Linked DNA regions of Homo sapiens. The protein of the gene in region 3 purifies or fractionates together with the protein of the main gene of each other region. This does not show direct contact. Each region holds a gene or a part of one and is shown on either strand. Other genes may lie near its edges. The genes, in order: JKAMP, ANKRD13C and PTGDR2.

Region 1 (3,725 bases), on a different chromosome or scaffold from region 3:
TCACCAAATGCGTTTGAATTCAGACGTCAGCTATGTTTTGAGGGAGAGACTTGAAGCAGAGACTAGAGGGTGGTTTGAGGGAAGGCGAGGAGTGACTAATGCTCAGACAGGAAAGGAGGTGGGTTTAAAAAGAGGGAGTTGTACAACTGTGCTTTGCCTAGGAAATTGGTAACAAGGACCACAAGGGCCATCTCTTACAGTTTCCTGAAATTTTGCACTTACAGTCCAGATAGATGGGGGCTGGAGGTGTCTTAACAAATGTTCATAAAAACTGGGGATAACCCCTGAGCTGATCTGGAAGGATGCATGGTTTGGCAGATAGGTAAAATGTGTTTGAGGTGGAGGGTGATGCATGCCCAGATGTGTGGAGGCACAAGTGAACTTAAAGTCATTTAGCATGGCCAGGAAATAGAGAAGACGATGCTGGTGGGGGTATTTTTCCAGAAAGACAAAAAGACTCAAAATTAGTTTAATGAGAGGAGTTCTAAAATTGTATTTCATTTTGTAAAGATTATGTGTCTGGCTGTAGATAGGTTGAAAGAGAACATGACAAGAAGACCAGTTAAGAAGGTTATCAAAGTAATGGCAAGAAATAATGAAGTTGGGATTTTGCCTCTGAAAATATTAATTCTATAAGGAAGCAAAATGTCAAATTATGTAATGTGAATGTGTGTTTATGTTTTCAGTGTTTTCATCTTTGTAAAATGGCACAGGAGTTCTGTTTCCAACAATGTGAGTTAATTAGGAGCTCCAAGTGACCCACCTGCATGAAATAACTAAAGTCTGGGAAAGATAAACTATGTGAGACATTGCTGGTCCCAGCTGGAGATGGAGAGATCTCCAGGAACTCTTCTCTTTCAAAACACAAACCAGCCCACCCTGAGTTAGGCCAGAGTGACAAGGCAGGCAGTTGGGATGAGAGGGTTGTCTGAGGTCAATTGCTGGTAGCAGCAGTGTTATCTGGATACTGAATCTTGGGTAGCCTCTGCTAAGACTAGACCCTCAAGGGCCTGAAGCCTAAGGTAGTAGTGGCCATGGCTGCTGACAAAAGTAGCAGAGCCTCTTTGCTGGAAAGCTTCCCCATTCTCAATTTAACCCTGTAAGACTCTTGCTCATTAAAATCTAGTAATGGCCTCATAGTCTGTGGTTACTAAATAAAATAGCACTAGGACTTATTGGTACATGCAACAAACAATATATTTATGCTCTGAGAGGACACAGATAATGGACTTTCACCTACAGGATATGTAACTGCTACCTATAAAGAAAGTAAGGATGTAGTCACAAGCTGTCCATAACAATAAGATTATTAGGAATAAATACATGTGATGGGGAAGAAAAGGAAACTTTTAGAAATGAAAGTTTATACTTGCCAAAATAAAAAAAAAGGTAGTCAGCAGATTAAACAGTTGAAGATAGAATTAGTGAACTAGAAAAAAATGCATAGAAATAATGGAATATTGCACTGAGAAAGAAGGAGATGGAAAATCAGGTGCAAGAAGGTGAGATCCATGTTGGGTAGGTGTGGGAGTGGTCCAGGCTTAAAGTCTTACACCTCACAGAAGCCAGTCTCTCTTATAACAATTCCATGAACTTCTGGGGTCCTGCAAGTGACATGCCAATTATAAGAGTCACTGAACTCAAGAAAGCCAAACCATGGTATCCCCATCAGGCATTTATAGTTCATTTATGGTTCTCCCCAGTCGAGATATAATTTACCAGGCAAGGATCATTTGTATCATAAGCAGTGTTGCCTAGCAATATAGTTGACATTCTATCCTTATCAGGCTTCCAGAGGAAAAGAGCTAGAGAGTTACCTGAAGCCCAGATTCTCATGCACAGCATAAATGTTTTGTTAAGTCTTTGCCCAAAGTATCTAATTAGGGTCTCTGGAAAAATAGAGACTATGAAGGAGAGCTGCTATTTTTTTTTTTTTTTTTTTGAGACGAGTCTTGCTCTGTTGCCCAGGCTGGAGTGCGGTGGTGCGACCTCGGCTCACTGCAAGCTTCGCCTCCCAGGTTCACGTCATTCTCCTGCCTCAGCCTCCCGAGTAGCTGGGACTACAGGCGCCTGCCACCACGCCCGGCCAATTTTTTTGTATCTTTAGTAGAGACGGGGTTTCACTGTGTTAGCCAGGATGGTCTTGATTTCCTGACCTCGTGATCCACCCGCCCCGGCCTCCCAAAGTGCTGGGATTACAGGCGTGAGCCACCACGCCCAGCCAAGGAGAGCTGGTATTTTAAGAGATAACTGGCTTCAGGTTTTACAAAAATAATGAGAAACCGATTCACAGATCCCAGAAGGAAAACACATCCCAAGCAGAATAAACAGAAATTCACACCTGCATGCATCATAATTAAACTGCAGAGTACTGAAAACAAAAGAGAAGCCATATGGAAGAGAACCAAGGCACACCTGTTAACAGCCTTGGTTGTGCTTCCAGCTAACAGCCAGCACTTACTGCAGCCATGTGAGTTAGTCCTTTTAAATGCTGCAGCATGGTCAAGCCTCTAGACCAGTGCTTCCCAAATTGACACCATGTGGAGCAGAAAGAACTGCCCAGTTGAGCCCAGTCACATCACAAAATAGTGAGAAATGATCAGTGGTTCTTGTTTCAAGCCACTAAGTATTGAGGTAGTTTGCTATGCAATGATACATAATGGAAACAGTGTTCAAGTAGAAAACTCAAAATCACCTATAGACTAGATATTAGAAATAACAAGACAGTTTAATAAAAAGGTTGACTATAAGATAAATATATGAAACTATTTCCTATATTCCATGTACAGTACAAGTACTGTGACATAGCTCAGACCATTAAGTTACATAGGATTTATCTGAGCACTTGACAAGCCAATTTTAAAATTTATATGGAAGAGCAAAGGGCCAGGAATAGCCAAGACCACCAAAGAAGTAGAAAAAATGTACATGACATCAAGGATTATGATCATATTATTCTTCTGGCTCAGGAATAGATAAATGGACTCAAGAAACAGAATAGAGACCCAAAACACAGACAATTATATATGAAACTTTATATGAAAGAAGTGCCATGGCAAATTAGTTGGGAAGGTAGGGGTGGGAAGGAGTACCTGTTCAGTAAAATGCTGCTGCTGGGACAACTGGCAATTCAAATGGGAAAATGTAAAGTTAGATCCTACCTTACGTTAGGCACAGAAATCTCTTCTAGGTGAATTAAAGATAAATGTGAAAAGCAAAACCTTAAAATTTTTAGAAGAAAATTTGGGTGTGTGTGTGTGTGTGAGATACACACACATCTCAGGGTGTGGAAGGACTTTTTAAAACATTTAAACTGCTAAGTAGAAAAAAAAATAAAAGCCTGGTGTATTAAAATTTAGAACATGTTTATAAAAAGGCTTCACAAAGAAAGTGAAAATTGAGCCCACAAACAGGTACACATTTGCAACACATTTAACTAACCACAGAATGGATAAACAAATCACAGTATTGTCACACAGTGGAATCCTAACACAATAGCGAAAATGACTGAACCTCAGCTATAAGCAATAACATGGATGAAACTTGGAAATGTAATTTTGAGTAGAAAAAAAATCTCAGAAGACTTCCATTAGTGTGATATCATTCAAAAATAAGCAAAACTAACCAGAATAGTTGTGAAGCAGAAATACAGTTGGGATAAAAACTTTCTGGAAAAAAGTGGTAAAAGCAGTTTGGTACATGGTTGCCTCTAAGGGAGAGACAGA
Region 2 (3,725 bases), on a different chromosome or scaffold from region 3:
AAAATTTATATTCTTTTTACTGTATTAACAGTTTTCAAGCTTTTGAATCTCAGGACTCCTTTTATACTTCTAAAAATTATTAAGGATCACAAAACCTTTTGTATAGATATATCTATTGATATTTATCATATTAGAAATTAAGATTTTTAAAATTTTAAATGTATTAATTTTAGAACTATAATACTCACTACGTGTTAATATAAAATTTCTTATGAAAAAATTAACTACATTTTCCAAAACAAATAAGTGACATGAGCAGTCTATTTAAATTATTTAATTAAAAATAAAAATAAATTATGTTTCTTTAATGTCTGGCTTAACAGAAGACAGCAGCTAGGTTTTTATATATGCTTTGCACAAATTCACAGTTGATAAGAGTGGGAGTATTTTAATAACCTTTTCTGATATTTTTCTTTGCTACACACCAAAATTCACTTCTTAAAAGTTGGTTGCACAGCTGGGCGCGGTGGCTCACTCCTGTAATCCCAATACTTTGGGAGGACGAGGCAAGCAGATCACCTGAGGTAGGGAGTTTGAGACCAGCCTGACCAATATGGAGAAACCCCGTCTCTACTAAAAATACAAAATTAGCCGGGCGTGGTGGTACATGCCTGAAATCCCAGCTACTCGGGAGGCTGAAGCAGGAGAATCGCTTGAACCCAGGAGGCAGAGGTTGCGGTGAGCCGAAATCGCACCATTGCACTCCAGCCTGAGCAAGAAGAGCAATATTCCGTCTCAAAAAAAAAAAAAGATTGCAATGTGAAATCTAAAATCATATAAATAAGTTTTTTGTACTGTATTACACTGAAATATATTGGTCTGTCTTGTGCTTTGAATGGATCTTGTACTGATGCATGATTCTGTAACACCATGCATTGATATTTGAAAAACACCGGTTGACCAGGTTATGGAAATCTTCAAATGTTGACATATTTCACTGTACAATAGCAAAAAAACCGTATTTGGCAATATCACCTCCAATCTGACTAGAACAGTCTTTTATGTACTGGGAACCCATCAAGCTTACCATGGTAGAGATAAGTTCTTCAAATTTCTACTTTTCATTTGAAAGCTTCAATTTTTTCATTCACAACAAATAACTGTCACTTGTTTTCCTTGAAGTCATAGGTTTACTTCATTATTTTCCAAAAAATATTTGCCATATATTCAAACTGTGATTAACTATAGTTTGTCTGTAAACTGTTCTTTAAAGTAAAAATGGTGTTCCATGAAAAAGGTGGCTAGCTCAGCTTACACTCAAATACCCCTCAAACTTTTTTCTAATACTTTTTTTTTCTATTTTTCTTTTCTTTCTTTTTAATAGAGACAGGGTCTCACTATGTTGACCAGGGTGGTCTCGAACTCCTGACCTCAAGTGATCCTCCCATCTCGTCCTCCCAAAGTGCTGGGATTACAGGTGTGAGCCACTGTGCCTGGCTTCCCCACTCAGTTTAACAATGCTTTCCCTTATTTACCCAGTCAGTATGCAGCAGAGGAGCAAAAGGCACAATCCCAATTATGTCACAAATACCAAAAAAGCATGTACTCAAGATTAGGATGTAATAAAATTCATAATTTTTACAGTTTCATCAAAAACATTAAGTAAAATGGCCTTGTTTTAATTTTTAAAAATTAAAAATTAATTTGCATGGCAGTGAACAATACAATGACTACCAGCCCAGTTTGCTACTTTGACTTGCACTAAGATGTCAACAATTTTACTCACCAGTGCTTTTGAACCACCAATGAAAATGTCTGCAGTGAAAAAGGCAAGCAATGACTAGATATTATAAAAATAGTTGCGACTTTGTGCACCCCCTAACTATAGAACAAAGCAGGAAATTGCAAGTACTAGTACAGAGCTCCAGGTTCTACAGACTCCTTCAAGTCTGATCCAAGCAAGCAGTAAAAGGGGATAATTTCTGCATTCTCTCTCAAAAATGCTAATATACTACTAAAATACACACACCATATCATCTGACATCAAATCCAGCATCAACTTCTATCAGCTCTATCTTCTTATCACCCTCACAGTTTCCCCCAACTATAGTAGCTTTTTATACTGACCCTTGCCTCACACAACAGCCCGAGTGAGCCTTTTAAAATCAAATTGTGTCGGGCGGGCGCGGTGGCTCACGCCTGTAATCCCAGCATTTTGGGAGGTCCAGGCGGGTGGATCACGAGGTCAGGAGATCGAGACCATCCTGGCTAACATGGTGAAACCCCGTCTCTACTAAAAAATACAAAAAACTAGCCGGGCGTGGTGGCGGGCGCCTGTAGTCCCAGCTACTCGGGAGGCTGAGGCAGGAGAATGGTGTGAACCGGGGAGGCGGAGCTTGCAGTGAGCCGAGATCGCGCCACTGCACTCCAGCCTTGGTGACAGAGCGAGGCTCCGTCTCAAAAAAAAAAAAAAAAAAAAAAAAAAGGCAGTTCATAGAGAAGCATGGTCTCAAACTCAGATCTGATCAATACAGAAAAGGCGAAAGACCTTTTCCCTTTTTCCTATCCCTATTTTACATACTTCAGTGTTGCTCTAAAACTGATCACCCAGCTCTCCCTCAAGAAAATAAATGGTGTAGGAACAGAACCATATTGTTTGTCTGCCTGGCCCCCATCCAATTCTCTAGGAACTGCACTCATTTTCTGGAACCCAAGCATTCTGATAATTACACTGTACTCTTGAATTAAAGTAGATTTCTATGACTTAAGAATGGCATTAACTTGGGGCAGCTATCCTACCGAAAACTCAATTCTCCAATGAGTCCTCTAGAATTCAGGATGCCCAGGACCCAACATCACCAATAATCACCCATTTCTGCTACCTTTTTTGCCAAAGCTAAGAATTTCTATTCCTATTGCAGCCCAGTGCAGAAAAGGGGAGAAGAGGATCCTCCCTCCCTTTTAAGACATAGCTCTGCAGATGTGTTCTTATCACAACATTTGTAAGCAGTGGGTGAAGTTCTATAGTACTAATGGTGACACCATCAGGAAACACAGCCACTTAACCCAAGGACAGTCCTACTCTGTTGGAGATGCACATGGGGAAGAAAGACAAGAAAGAAGGAAGATGACATTCATCTAATAATGAAGATCAACTAAATCAACCCTGATCAATGGAGTAACATTTCACCACCAAATCACCCCCACACCCAGGTAAGGGGTATAACACACTTTAATGTGTTATAAACTTGAGCCTCTAGACACCACTTTCTTCCTAAGGGAAACTGAGGTCTATCCTACAAAAACAAAATTTAAAAAGAAACCTACAAAACACAAAGCAAACAAACAAACATAAAACTACTAATGTTCTTTTAAACACAAGCCATCATTTTAACCCTCTCCTGGTTAAAATTGTTCACCAGTAGCTAAAATTTTTTTTTCCATGCAGAGATTAGCTTTATAGTCACCTCTTCTAAAAGAGATCTATTACATATTATTCTTTTGTATCACCCATCATGAAGGTTTTAGTGACTAAAAGTAGAGAAAAAAATATCAAAAGGAAGATACGAGATTTATACAGAATAAACCAAAATAAACATACTGTATGGCCATGAAATAGATTATCCTATCTTCTCAATCCTCAAATGCACATTTTTTTTTTTTGAGATGGAATTTAGCTCTTGTTGCCCAAGCTGGAGTGCAATAGTGCAATCTCAGCTCACCCCAACCTCCACCTCCCAGTCCTGCCTCAGCCTCCCGAGTAGCTAGGATTACAGGTGCGCGCG
Region 3 (4,232 bases):
GGGTTCAGGAGCAGCACATTGTAGTAGCACATAATGCGCCCGTCCAGCCGCGAGATGGTGTCCCGGAACACGAAATAGGGCACCGTGTTGAGCACCGCTAGTGCCCAAAGCACCAGGCAGACTTTGTGCGCCGCGGCCACGGTGCGGTGGTTCTGCGCCCACACCGGCCGCACCACCTGCAGGCAGCGGTCCAGGCTGATGGCGCTGAGCAGGAAGCCGCTGGCGAACATGTTGAGAAAGAAGATGGAGGAGTGCAGTTTGCAGAAGGTGGTGCCCAGCTCCCACGAGTGGCCCACGGCCAAGAAGTAGGTGAAGAAGGGCAGGGAAGCAGAGGCCAACAGGTCGGACAGCGCCAGGTGCAGCACCCAGGTGGTGACCACGGTCTGGCGCATGCGGCAGCCCACCACGAAGAGGATGACTCCATTCTCCACCAGGCCCAGCAGCGAGGCCAGCCCGTGCAGCAGCACGGCCGCGTGGTCGATGTAGCGGATGCTGGTGTTGCTGTGGCTCTGGAGACGGCTCATCTGCTCCAGGATGGGGCAGAGTGGCTTCAGTGTGGCGTTGGCCGACATCGTGGGGCTCTGCAGTGGAGGGAAGGAGGCGCCTAAGTTGGAAGTGCAGAGGCCACCGGGGAACCAAGAGAGAGGCCCGGAGTGGGACCCTGCCCAGGAGATGCCAATGTGACCCACGAATATATTGGGCGGTGGGGGTGGGGGGAATAATATCCCAGCATTGCTGTGCTTGGGCAAGTCATTTAACCTTCCCGAGCCTTTTTCTGCCTCTGAAACTTGGATGTCAGTCATAACATCACCTAGCTCATAGAGTTATTGGGAGAATTAAGTGAGTTTAATACATAAAAGCATTTAGAACATGGCCTGGCACAGAGCAAGCACTTTATCAGTGTCATTGTGATGATTATGGAGCAAATGGTCTAAGATCACACAGAGAAAAAGGAACAAGGTCAGGCCACACAGGACTCCTTTTTCCCATCCCCAGAGCACTGGCGGGTGAAGGAGGCCCCACAATTAGGGCAAGAGGATTCTGCTGGCCTGGGCGATGGAGATGCTGCCCCTTCCCACAGCATCCACAGCGCCCCCAGATGTTGCCTCTCTACAGATCCTCCATGCAGCTCCCCGCACTCAGTGGTGGCTGGTTAGATGTGCCGACCATAAACAGTGGAACCAGCCCCTCCTCTGATGGTTGGAGAGGAAATAAGATAAGAGCCAGGAGAGCTGGGGAGGAGGAACTCCCACATGGGGCTCTGGAGGCCCAGTGGGGCCAAAAGATCTCTCCCTTCTCAGGAGCAGCCACAGCAGCTCTCTCCGCCCCAGGAAACCCACCCCTGTTCATTCACTTACTCCATCATGCACTCATCCAACAAATAAGACGTGCATGCTTACATCCTCATTGAAAGCCCGAAAGACCATCTGATGTGAGGCTGGTCAAGACCAGTGAGGGCTGAGGAAATTCCATGAGGCTCCATGCAGGAGGTAGGAGGCAAGTAGCAGGGGACAGGGACTCAGGGTGTCCTGGGCACCAATGACACTCCAGGTACTATGGTAGGTCCTTCACATAGGTGCTGTCTTTCTGGCTCTAGAAAAATGGTGCTAGTACTCCATCCTATTTTACAGATGAGAAAACTGAGCCTCAAGTGGTTAAATAACTGGCCCAGAGCCACCCAGACAGCACAAACATGTGGAGGAGAAAGTTTCATGCTCAGCCTGTGCTCTTTCCTCTACCCCTACTCCAAGGAAGAGAGGATGGAGGAGGAGGAAGAAAAGCGGGAGAGGGGAGCAATGGTCTTCAGTACTCATCTTTCTAGGGAAAACACTGTTGGCCAGGATGAGAAAACCCACTCCCTTCCAGAGACCACAGTCCTTTGTAGAGTGGGGTTCTGGAATATCAAACTAGAATTCTGCTGGCGGAGGAGCCCCTTGGAGCTAGAGACCTGCAGGTAGATGGAAGAGGAGCCTGTGCTTCCTGAGAATGGTCATACTTCCTAGGCTTTAGAATGTGCAGAGCAGTTACTCTTGCAATGAACCTATGACACCCCATTTTTCAGAAGAAGAAACAACAACTTGCCCAGCGTTCCTCAGCTGCAACAGTGGGGCTGGGACTTCACTCCCAGCAGATAGCCAAGTACCACCCGCTGTCTGCCCTGAAACATTCCCTGCAGACCAGCTGCTGCTGATCCAAGTCCTATGGGGATGATCAGAGAGCACAGTCCTGCCACACCCTTGGGCACCACCAGATCAGTCCTTCTAACTCTATAGAGACAGCCCCCAGCCTCCCAGGATTCTCAGGAGCCAAGCAGCTAAGGTCCGGCTTTGGCAGGTTAAGAAAAAAAAAAAAAAAAAGGGACAGAGAGTGCAAGCTGTGGGAGTCCAAGACCTGGGTTTGAATCCCAGCTCCTCAGCTTCCTGGCTGCGTGACCTTGGGCCAGTTACTCTAAGCGTGCTGGTGTCATCTTCCCACCCAGACTGCTTGTGAATATTGACAGACAGTTGAGTGGTTTCCCCTCGTATCTGACATCTAGTTAATGCCTAAGAGAAGCTAATCCTTCCCTCCTCTGAGCACCAAGTCCCCTCCAGTCTTTGGTAAACTCAATCTTCTGCCATCCTAGCTGGTAACAGCCCTCTCACCTGGTAAAACTTTGCCTTCTTCTGTGGGTCTAGAGAGGGCACTAGGCTGCCCAACCCCTGGGCCACTCCTCCTTACCTGGGCACAGAGGGAGCACAGGATTCCAGCCCTGGAGGCAGTCAGCTCCTGACAGCAGCTAGACAAGAGGCAGCGGGCAGACAGAGGTGGGAGAGGGAGGCTGAGAGAGGAAATAGCTGTCAGCCCCAGTGCATGTGTGTTTAGGGGTGGGGTTGGGGGAGGCGGGGACAGCTGGAGAGTGAGTTGCCACACAGATGTTCAAATATCATCAATTTCCATCAATGCCGGCAGCCCCTGCTCCACCCATCCCCGCTTCATGAAGGAGACTGCAGAAGTCCAGAGGGCAGTGCAAGTGCACGTGAAAAAATCGATGTGTGCAAGAGAGTGTGAGCCCGAGTGTGACTAGGGGTGTGCTTTTGAGAGTGACCAGTGTGTAGGATAAGTGCGTGAGAAGGAGAATGTCTCATCCATCTGTCCACTGTTCCTGGGCTTCCATCTCCCGACACCAGAATCCTCAGAGAAGAAACCCCTCCAGCTGTTCTGAGTTTCCCAGGCAGTGTGGGGGCCTGTCCATGAGGGACCCGAGGGCTCTAAGGCCAGGAAAGTACAGTGGGGTAGTGGGGGCAGTGGCAAGAACGCAGTCCAAGAGGTCAGTCACTTCTGTTTGCTGAGCCCTGGGGTTGTCATCTGTGAACGGGAGCAGTAACATCGGCCTTACAGGCTGTGGTAAGGGTTGAATGAGATGGATTGCACAAAGCTCGTGGCACACAGTAAGTGCTTATAAAAATCAGCTTCCTTCTCCTCTGAGGGAAAAATGAATATAGGCTCTAAGGCAAAGGTCATATAGCTTTTATTTAAAACAGGCTCAATTTTGGGAGGCCGAGGCGGATGGATCACTTGAGGTCAGGAGTTCAAGACCAGACTGGCCAATGTGGCAAAACCCCTGTCTGTACTAAAAATACAAAACTCAGCCAGGCGTGGTGGCACATGCCTGTAACCCCAGCTACTTGGGAGGCTGAGGCATGAGAATCGCTTAAACCCAGGAGGTGGAGGTTGCATTGAGCCGAGATCACACCACTGCACTCCAACCTGGGTGACAGAGTAAAAACTCCATCTCAAAAAAAAAAAAATGGAAATTTAAACTAAAAAACAAAAACAAACAAACAAAAAAACACACAGGCTCAAAGCCCTAGGATAAGAGAAGTTTGCATTTCATTGTTCCCTAACTCCTTACTCTCATTTGCTGACCAAGCTTCCTGGGGTCAGGACCATCCCTTCAACCTCAGCATCTCAGCACCTAATGGATACTCATTAAAACATTTTAAGAACTCAATATCCCTGTATCGAGGCAAAGGCACCTCCCATGAGATGGACAGCACAAGCATCTTCCATTTAGGCCTAGTCTTAACGCAGAGACTAATGCATAATACGCTCTTGCTGAGAGGCTACCATCATGAGTGGAAAATGAGTAAAATGCTATGCCCTTGTGATGGGGATAATACATCTCACTGTAGCCCAATATGGCAGATCAGTAAGAGCCTTGGTGATCCAAATCATTAACAATAGGAAAATGT

The links.
Region 1: the proteins of PTGDR2 (region 3) and JKAMP purify together in Homo sapiens (affinity purification with western blotting, with the first as the bait; one large-scale study listed by BioGRID). This does not show direct contact.
Region 2: the proteins of PTGDR2 (region 3) and ANKRD13C purify together in Homo sapiens (affinity purification with western blotting, with the first as the bait; one study listed by BioGRID). This does not show direct contact.

Annotation. Positions count from the first base shown.
Region 1 is NC_000014.9:59,490,875-59,494,599, forward strand, and holds part of JKAMP (JNK1/MAPK8-associated membrane protein), read left to right. Parts: intron 1-686; exon of another isoform or gene 687-1,177; intron 1,178-3,725. UniProt on the Homo sapiens protein: Regulates the duration of MAPK8 activity in response to various stress stimuli.
Region 2 is NC_000001.11:70,344,693-70,348,417, forward strand, and holds part of ANKRD13C (ankyrin repeat domain-containing protein 13C), read right to left. Parts: intron 1-3,725. UniProt on the Homo sapiens protein: Acts as a molecular chaperone for G protein-coupled receptors, regulating their biogenesis and exit from the ER.
Region 3 is NC_000011.10:60,853,151-60,857,382, forward strand, and holds the start of PTGDR2 (prostaglandin D2 receptor 2), read right to left. Parts: upstream 2,801-4,232; 5' UTR 2,719-2,800; intron 582-2,718; 5' UTR 573-581; coding exon 1-572.